Regions from separate parts of the Homo sapiens genome. Here regions 2 and 3 are each linked to region 1. The links come from fine-mapping of genetic effects on gene expression. A gene starts in region 1. Each other region holds a variant in brackets. All regions are shown on one strand. Distances are between the middles of the regions. Region 1 holds the start of LBX2-AS1 (LBX2 antisense RNA 1). Region 2 overlaps LOXL3 (lysyl oxidase like 3). Region 3 overlaps WBP1 (WW domain binding protein 1).

Evidence for each region. PIP is the estimated chance that this variant, and not a neighbour inherited with it, causes the effect.
Region 2: its variant is the best candidate, but not a certain one, in a credible set for the expression of LBX2-AS1 in subcutaneous fat (GTEx, PIP 0.69).
Region 3: its variant is the best candidate, but not a certain one, in a credible set for the expression of LBX2-AS1 in pituitary (GTEx, PIP 0.86).

Annotation. Positions count from the first base shown.
Region 1 is chr2:74,501,272-74,504,025 of GRCh38, reverse strand. LBX2-AS1 (LBX2 antisense RNA 1) reads right to left here and starts at 1,433. Exons shown (of 2, transcript NR_152616.1): 1 at 1,074-1,433; 2 at 1-386. It also overlaps a transcript of LBX2 not described here. RefSeq lists enhancers at 534-603, 510-804, 275-900, 901-1,525.
Region 2 is chr2:74,545,573-74,548,326 of GRCh38, reverse strand. All of the region lies in intron 4 of LOXL3 (lysyl oxidase like 3), which reads left to right. Among named protein-coding and RNA genes, the nearest start is that of LOXL3, 7.0 kb to the left of the region's middle. RefSeq lists an enhancer at 2,112-2,281. The variant C/T (reference allele first, on the strand shown) is at 1,391.
Region 3 is chr2:74,459,064-74,461,817 of GRCh38, reverse strand. WBP1 (WW domain binding protein 1) reads right to left here. Exons shown (of 4, transcript NM_012477.4): 2 at 2,073-2,175; 3 at 1,769-1,945; 4 at 937-1,597. The coding sequence ends at 1,137. MOGS (mannosyl-oligosaccharide glucosidase) reads left to right here. Exons shown (of 4, transcript NM_006302.3): 4 at 1-761. The coding sequence ends at 543. INO80B-WBP1 (INO80B-WBP1 readthrough (NMD candidate)) reads right to left here. Exons shown (of 8, transcript NR_037849.1): 6 at 2,073-2,175; 7 at 1,769-1,945; 8 at 927-1,597. Among named protein-coding and RNA genes, the nearest start is that of WBP1, 2.0 kb to the right of the region's middle. The variant T/AAATGTGT (reference allele first, on the strand shown) is at 1,687.

The DNA of each region.
Region 1 (2,754 bases):
GCTCGCATTGGACGCTCTGGGGTGCCACAGTCGGACACTGTTTCCGGGAGACCTCCGCCTCTCCGCGCGGATGAAGAGGCTGCAGACGCCGAAGAAGAGCTCGAGTGCGTGGGGCACTGATGGGGATCGGGGTGGGCACACAGCAGACGGCCTGGGTACGCTTCTTTCCTGACATGGTCTCCAAGGTTAGCAAAGCTTCCAAACGTTTCCAGGCCTCCAGCCTGGAATGCCTCTCCCCCCGCTCCCCGACCTCTTCCAGGAACACCCCAGCTCAGGGCTCCCCACTCCCCTTCCTGCGAATTGAAGCTCTGTGGGCTTTGCGGTCCGGGCGGGCGAGTACCTGGCGGCCGGGGCTGTTCTCCAGGAGTTTCTGCGCGAAAAGTTTCCTAGGAGTGACGGGATGGCGTGGGCTCAGGGGAGAGTAGAAACGCTCCCGGGGGCTTTGCAGGGACCGAGCAGCTGCGGGAGCTGGGGAGCAGTCTGACTGGGACTCCCTGGAAGGCCCTGCCATTGGGGCTGGGCGGCAGCTCGGCGTCGAAAAAGCCGGGTCTGAAGATTAATGTGCCGAGGCCGGAGACCCTGAGGACCAAGTCACGGGACTTGCCCTTGGTGACTCACGCCTTGAGGCCGAGCAGCGCGGAAGGCGCTCAGGCCGGATCTGGGGTGGGGCCCAGCCGAGCCTTGGTCTTGTCTGTCAGCAGCGGCAGCTGCACTGCGTCTCCCAAGGTGGCTGAAGCTGGCCAGCTGCGGGCTCCGCGCCGCTCGTCCCGGGTCTATGGGTCCATTCCCCACGCCCACCCGGACCCCGGGGTCACTCGGGTCTCCGTCTGTGCCAGGGAGGGAGAATCACGCCCAGGGTCCTCTCTGGCTTCGCGCGACTGAGAACGCGCCCGGACGCGGCGCGGCGCTCCTGAGTCAAAGGAGAGGTGGCGGCAGGACCACCCCAGGGCGCCGTCTGCACCCCCGGACGCACTCGGCCGTGCTGCGCTTCCGGGACAAGGCGTCGGTTCTCGCCTGAGGGCCAAACCTTGCCCCTGCCCACCTTCCTCACCCCCGCCATTTCCAGGACTCACATCCAAAGGCGACAGCACCAGGATTTGCTCCCGCCTTTGGCACAGAGGAGGACGGGTCCCTCTCTCAGCCTGGCCAGTCTTTCCCAGGGCTTGATGGGAAAAAGGACTTCCCTAGAAGTGAGTCTTGGGGAGTTGGGGGGAGAAAAGTGTCGAGGAGGGCGTCGGAGTTTCCCACCGCTGGCTGCTTCCCGGCCCGCACGCCCGGGAGGGTGGCGGTGGGCGCGCAGAGATCTTTGCAAAACAGCGTCCAGGGCGGAAAACAACTCACAGGCCTGCCGCCCCCAAAGTCACGAAACTAAGATATAAGGACCGGTTCACTCCGCAGTAGCGCTTTCTGAAAGAGAAAACAATCCCAGAAGTGTGCGGGACGGACGGAAGCCCCGCCTCACGCTCCTCCGCCTGGACTTTGCTCCCTGAACTCCCACTGCCCTCTCACTCCGGTTCACGGACGTTTCCTAAGGGTGGGGAGGAGGGGAGCAAGCTCTTCGCTGAGATTGTCCTTGTCCACCTCCCCAAGGGGGTTATTCCGAGGGTCCTCCAACCCTGCTACACATTCACAGAATTCAGTGGAATGTCCGGGCCGGCAATCCGAGACTAAAGGTCGTTTATTGAGCAGGCCTCCGTGCCACCAGTGGGGAACGGGGTCGAGCGGGGGCGGCCCGGGGTGGAGGAACCCGCCGATGGGGTGTGTGGGTGCAAGATAAGGTGGGGGTAGGGCTGAGGGGTGAGAATGGGAAATCTGAAAGGGGAGGTGTGAGGAAGCATCCTTAAGCGGGAATGGGGTGCCTTCCCAAGACAGCGAATTTGGAATGTGGGGATCTCTACAAGGGGAGGGAGCGCAGGGCCCCGAAATGTCTGAATGGACAATCAAAGGAATCTGAGAAGGTGGGAAACACAAGAGACTGCCTGAAAAGGAAAACCGTTGGCCCCGCGGGGCCAGCGGTGAAGGCTGGCCTCCGTGCATCTCTTGAGAAGGATCGTGAACAGGGAGGGTTCTACCCGCGGGTGGGAAGAGGCGAGCACCCAGGAGCTTCTGTGCTTCCAAGCTGGGGTGGGGGGTAACCTATAGGACAGCCGAGTGAGTGTCCCCTCCCCAACCCAGAACAAGTTTTAATCTCTTAATCTTCCTCATTAATCACTCACCCTCCTACCCCTCTCTGTGGATCCGATTTCGCCCCAGCTCGAGTTCCAGTACTGAGAAAAGTCCCCTTCTGTGGCCCCACGATCCCCTGGACTAGTCCCTGGCCGCTTTGACGACCTTAGAGGGGCCTCTGCTGTCCTGGGCCTCCTCCCTTTGCTACTCTCCACTTCCATCTCCTCCCCCAAACTCATGTTTAGGAGCTGTCCAATCCCAGTACCTGAGCCCAGCTGCAGAGGGGAGAACTAGGCGGGAGAGATGGAAGGGGCTGTGAGGCACAGGCCCATCAGCAGAGCTCCACACTCCTCACAGACACACGTAAGTAATTGAGAGCAGAGGTAGAGACAGACACAAAAGCCACATAGAGGATGCATGAGTGAAGGTTGCAGCATCTGCTTGGTGATATGCCTGGGATGCAGTGGGGCAGTTCCTGCTGCCTCCAGAGAGCTGCTTTATTGCACATTAAGTGAAACCACTAGGATGGTTTCCAGGGCTGAGGCCTGTAGCCCGAAGATCTCTCCAGGCCCTCCCCTGCCCCTCACC
Region 2 (2,754 bases), 44 kb before region 1:
TTTTCCAACCCAGGTATAGGTGACGTTTACCTATTACATTTGTTTTGATACATAATTTAGAAGCCATAAAAAAGCCATGATGATCCCATGAGATTATCTTGAGTCCTGATGTGACTTTCCATCTGTCATTTCCCCTCAGCCTCCTCTGCTGAACAGACATGGCAGCTTTGCCTTCTGGCTTCATCCAAATGGCTAAAAGTTGTTGTGGAAATGTTTAAAACCAAAGTCTAACTCTTCTTGCAAAATGTTCCTGTAGATTTTCATCAAGCTTCTAATCATCAGCTGTAAAATATGTTCCTTCCACCAACTGGGAAGAAACAGAACACTTCAATGATGTAACCAACATTTCACCTTATCTATCTATATATTTCTTATCTGTAATGAAATCATGGGAGATTCTGTTAGTTTTTGATAAAATCCAGATATGCTATGTTCACAGCCATTCTCCAGCCTTCCAATTTAGTAATCCTGTCAAAAAAGAAAATCATAGTAGTTTGAGTCTATTTTTACTGAAATCCTTTTAGGTCTCTAAGAATCACCTTATTTTTTCCTAAATGCTTACAAACTTCTATTTAATAATTTATTCTAGAATATTACTTATGTGTAGATTGAGGAATTGAGGAATCCTTTTTCTCCTTTTTTTTTTTTCTTTTGAAAGTCAGGATATTATCCAGTCTCCAGTCTTTTCTATACCTGCTCACACTTTCTTTGCCTTGGCTCTGAGGCTCATCTGAAATGTCTTTCAGTACTGAGGACTTTCGGTACTTTATCTGGCCTGGACACTCAAACCACTTTAAAACAAACGTGCTGTGCCTCTTTACTTTCATCCATCTTGGGGCTGCATTTCCTTCTCTGTGCTGCTTACCTTCCCTAATTTAAACCCCATGTTCTGAAAGATGCGTAGAATTTAGACATTTCCAGTGAAGAAGATAGCGTGAACAAAGGTGTAGAGATCCACTCACCCAATATTTATTTACTGAGATCTTACTATGTGCCAGGTACTGTTGTAGACACTACCCGTGGCTCATGCCTATAATCCCAGGACTTTGGGAGGCCACGGTGGAAGCATTATTTGAGCCCAAGAATTCGAGACCAGCCTGGGCAACATAATGAGACCCTGTCTCTACAGATAATTTTTTAAAAATAAAATTAGCTGAACATGGTGGTGCGTGCCTGTAGTCCCAGCTACTTGGGAGGCTGAGGTGGGAAGATTGCTTGAGCCCAGGAAGTCAAGGCTGCAGTGAGCTGTGATCATGCCACTACACTGCCTGGGTGGCAGAGCAAGACCCTGTCTCAAAAAATAAATTAACTAAGGCCGGGCACGGTGGCTCACACCTGTAATCCCAGCACTTTGGGAGGTCGAGGCGCGGATCACCTGAGGTCAGGAGTT[C/T]GAGACCAGCCTGACCAACATGGAGAAACCCCATCTCTACTAAAAATACAAAACTAGCCGGGTGTGGTGGCGCATGACTGTAATCCCAGCTACTCGGGAGGCTGAGGCGGGAGAATGGCTTGAACCCGGGAGGCGGAGGTTGCGGTGAGCTGAGATCGCGCCATTGCACTCCAGCCTGGGCAACAAGAGCGAAACTCCGTCTCAAATAAAAATAAAATAAAAATAAATTAAGTAAGTAAGTAAATAAATAAGTGGTGAAGGAAGGCCTCTTGGAGAAGGCATCATTTGAGAAAAGATTTAAAGGAGGTGAGGGCACAAGCTATGCAGACCTCTAGATAAACATTTCTAGGAAGAGGGATCAAAAATGAAAATATTCTGGGGTGTGTGTGTGCCTGTGTGTGTATGTAGTGGGTGATGGGATAAGGCCTCTCCTTCTCCTGGAGGCCACTGTGGCTGGAGCTGAGTGAAAAAGAAGAAAATGGTAGGAGATGCAGTGTAGGTGGTCTTCGGAAAAGAATGGGAAGCCAGATCCTGCGGGCCATCTGGGAGAGGATGGCTTTTGTTCTGTGGGAGATAAGGAACCACTGGAGGGCTTGGAGCAGAGGTGTGACATCGGGCTTCCATTTTTTTTTCAGTACTACTTTCACTGCTTTATTAGGAATAGATTGTAAGGGATGCAGTAGAAGCAAGAAGTCAGGTGGCTGGTTATGGGGTTATTGTCTTCTGAAAGCCACGTAAAGAAAGTGAAAGGTGATGGTGACCAGTGAAAGTGGTGAAAAATGATCAAGATTTACAGACAGTTGAAGGCAGAGCTATAGGACTTGCTGATGGATTCAGTGTGATGTGAGAGAGAGGAGTTAAGGCTCTCTCCAGGTTTTTGGCCTCAGCTAAGTAAGAAATTGGCCTCACCTGACAAGGAAAACAGTGAATGGAGCATGTTTTGTTGGGAGATGGGCTTGGGGGTGGAGGGTAGGAACTTGGTTTTAGACCTGTTAAATTTAAGATTCTTTAAGACATTGAAGTGGCGAGGCTAAGTTAGGTAATTTAATATAGGACTCTGGAGTTCAGTTGAGTAAAACATATAAAGTCCTGAAACTGGACAACATACCAAGGAAGTGAATGTAAATTTAAAAGACAGAGAGAGGCCCAGAGACTGAACCTTGGGGAGACTAAATATTTAAAAGTCAGAAGATAAGATGAATGCAAACAGTGAGGTGAGGTAGGAAGAAAACCAGGGGAGTGTGGTGGCCTGGGAGCCAAGTAAAGTGCTTCGAAGAGGAGAGAGTGACCAGCTAAGTCAGTGCTGCCCAGACCTAAAAACATGAGGACTGAGAAACAAATGCTGGATTTAGCAACAGTAAAGT
Region 3 (2,754 bases), 42 kb after region 1:
CACACAAAAGCAGTACAGCTGAAGCCCAGGCCCCCTCAGGGGCTCGTTCGGGTGGTGGGTCGGCCCCAACCTCAACTGCAGTATGTAGATGCTCTTGGCTATGTCAGTCTTTTTCCCTTGCTGCTGCGACTGCTGGACCCCACCTCATCCCGCCTTGGGCCCCTGCTGGACATTCTAGCCGACAGCCGCCATCTCTGGAGCCCCTTTGGTTTACGCTCCCTTGCAGCCTCCAGCTCCTTTTATGGCCAGCGCAATTCAGAGCATGATCCCCCCTACTGGCGGGGTGCTGTGTGGCTCAATGTCAACTACCTGGCTTTGGGAGCACTCCACCACTATGGGCATCTGGAGGGTCCTCACCAGGCTCGGGCTGCCAAACTCCACGGTGAGCTCCGTGCCAACGTGGTAGGCAATGTATGGCGCCAGTACCAGGCTACAGGCTTTCTTTGGGAGCAGTACAGTGACCGCGATGGGCGAGGCATGGGCTGCCGCCCTTTCCACGGCTGGACCAGCCTTGTCTTACTGGCCATGGCTGAAGACTACTGAAGGGAGGGAGAGGAGGGGAGCCAAGACACTCATGCCACTCTGGCTCTGAAGGGACAAAGGCTTCTGGCTTTTGCCCCCAGCCCCTTGGATACCAGTAATTCAAACCTTCCTCATTTCATCTCAGGTGTCTCCTTGCTGTCATCCCACATAGCCCTGGGGTGAATGTGAATCCAGAGTCTATTTTTCTAAATAAATTGGAAAAAACATTTTGAACTCTATTGCTTTTGCCAGATTTGCCTCACCAAGAGGCCTTAGGTCAGTCCAGGCCTCAGCACTGTCTGCTGTCCTCAGGGAAGGTGGGGTCAAGTGGCCATAACCTGTCCCCTTCAAACCCAGTCAGGTCAAGTGCAATGCAGTGAGTTGAGCTTTAGTCCACCCAAATCCACAAGTAGCTGGTTCACATCTCTTTAATGAGATCAAAGGCTCCTGTGTATGTCCTGCGGGGGTAAAGCTAGCACAGTCCCCCAATACTGCCCCTCTCCAGCCCTTTCAGGCAGATTCTAGGTAGGCAGGGAGGGGCCAAAGGAACGCAAGGAGTTGGGACTAGGGCTGTTTCTGGTGGGCAAGTAACCCATCCACCCTCTCAAAACTACTTATGGGATGTCCCCTTCACTGGAAGACAGCCCCATGGGAAAGATCTGCGGTACAGACTCTGGGGGTAGTGCACACGGGGAGTAGTCCTCCAGATCTGGCAGGGTGGCACTAACCCTCACCTCCTTGACTGGCTCACCCTCACCGGAGGCAGGACAAGGGCAGAGCTCAATACCGGAGTCGCCAGTTAAACGGCGATAGCGGCAGGAGGGGGGTGTGGAGGCAGGGGTCACCCCTGCCCCGGGCTCACCCTCCTGATGAGGGGGGGCACTCTGGTGGGAGGAAACACCTTCCACATTTGTTCCTTCAAAGTGGGCAGGGCAGCTGGATGAGGAGGAACAGCAGGTTTGTTCACTGGAAGCAGTCAAGGGGCGGCCTGGGGCCACAGTATAAGGGGGGGGTGGTGTGCCTGGGCGGTGAACCACATCCTCGTAGGCTGGGGGCTTGAAGGTGCTGAGGAAGCCTGCAGGGGAGAAAATTGGCATGATTGGTTGAAGACAACCAGGTATAGGGTGCTAGTTTTTATATTAGGGAAAAATACTTTGAAATGTG[T/AAATGTGT]GGAAAAGGGAATGTGAGACGATTTGGGGTTCTGGTTTGGGGAGGGCCACTGGTAGCTGACCCAGGGCATCAAGTCACTCACGAAGGTCAAGCAGTGAACCGGTAGGGAAAGGACCAGCCCCATGGCATGCCCCATGATAGGCCAACAAGTTGATTTCACGCTGCCGCTGCTGTTGTTGCAGCCTGAGTTTAGCTCGTCGGTGGCGGAAGGCGCAACAGCAGCTAAAGAGGATGAGGACAGTCCAGAGCAGCCAGAACCCTGCAAGAGGCAAGGAGGGAGCAACTCAGGCATCTTTCATGCAGAGAAGGGGCCCTGAAGGCCGAAATTCTGAGGTCCAAGGGAGGGTGGACACAGGGACCTGGAAATAGCCCTCTTGGAGACTTACACCAGAGCTCATAGTAGTAGGTGCAGCAGCCAGTCTCCCCGCAGCAGTGACCACTCTCACAGAGGTAGGGCTGGTTGTTCACTCCTGGGCACAGCTCTCGAAGCTGCGGGCAAGGAGGCACTTAGAACTAAGGGGGATTCCAGCCCAGGGCACTGTCCACCCCCACCTCCTGCATGCACATACACAATCCCACCCTGTGAACCAAGTTCAGCTTGGAGAGATGGGGGAAGTGGAGGATGCTGAGAGGAGTGTTGAAATATCTGAAGGGCTGTCAACGTGGAAGAGGATTTGGAATAGCAAGAATCAGTCTAGAGAACAAGACAAAAGTGTGGACATACAAAGAGGGAGATTTCAGCTCTGCATATATGAGACTTCCTTCACACTCAAGCCTCACTCTCCCCAACCCCCCTACCCCCATCCCCTCGGTGCTTTCTGTTAAGGGAGTGTTTTGGCAGAAGCCAGAAGACAGTCTGAGATAATCTCAGTCTCAGACAACGGGTAGCGGTAGGTCATTTCCAAAGCAAGTTGCTTTCATTATCCTGCGCGGTTCACTACCCCCCACCCGCAACTGGATCTTTCCACCCCTGGGCCTCAGGCTCCCTAGGATAGAGGAGGGGCAGTGTGAGACCCAGAGCAGTGCTCCCAACCAGATGGGATTGCTGTGGATGATAAAGGATGGCAT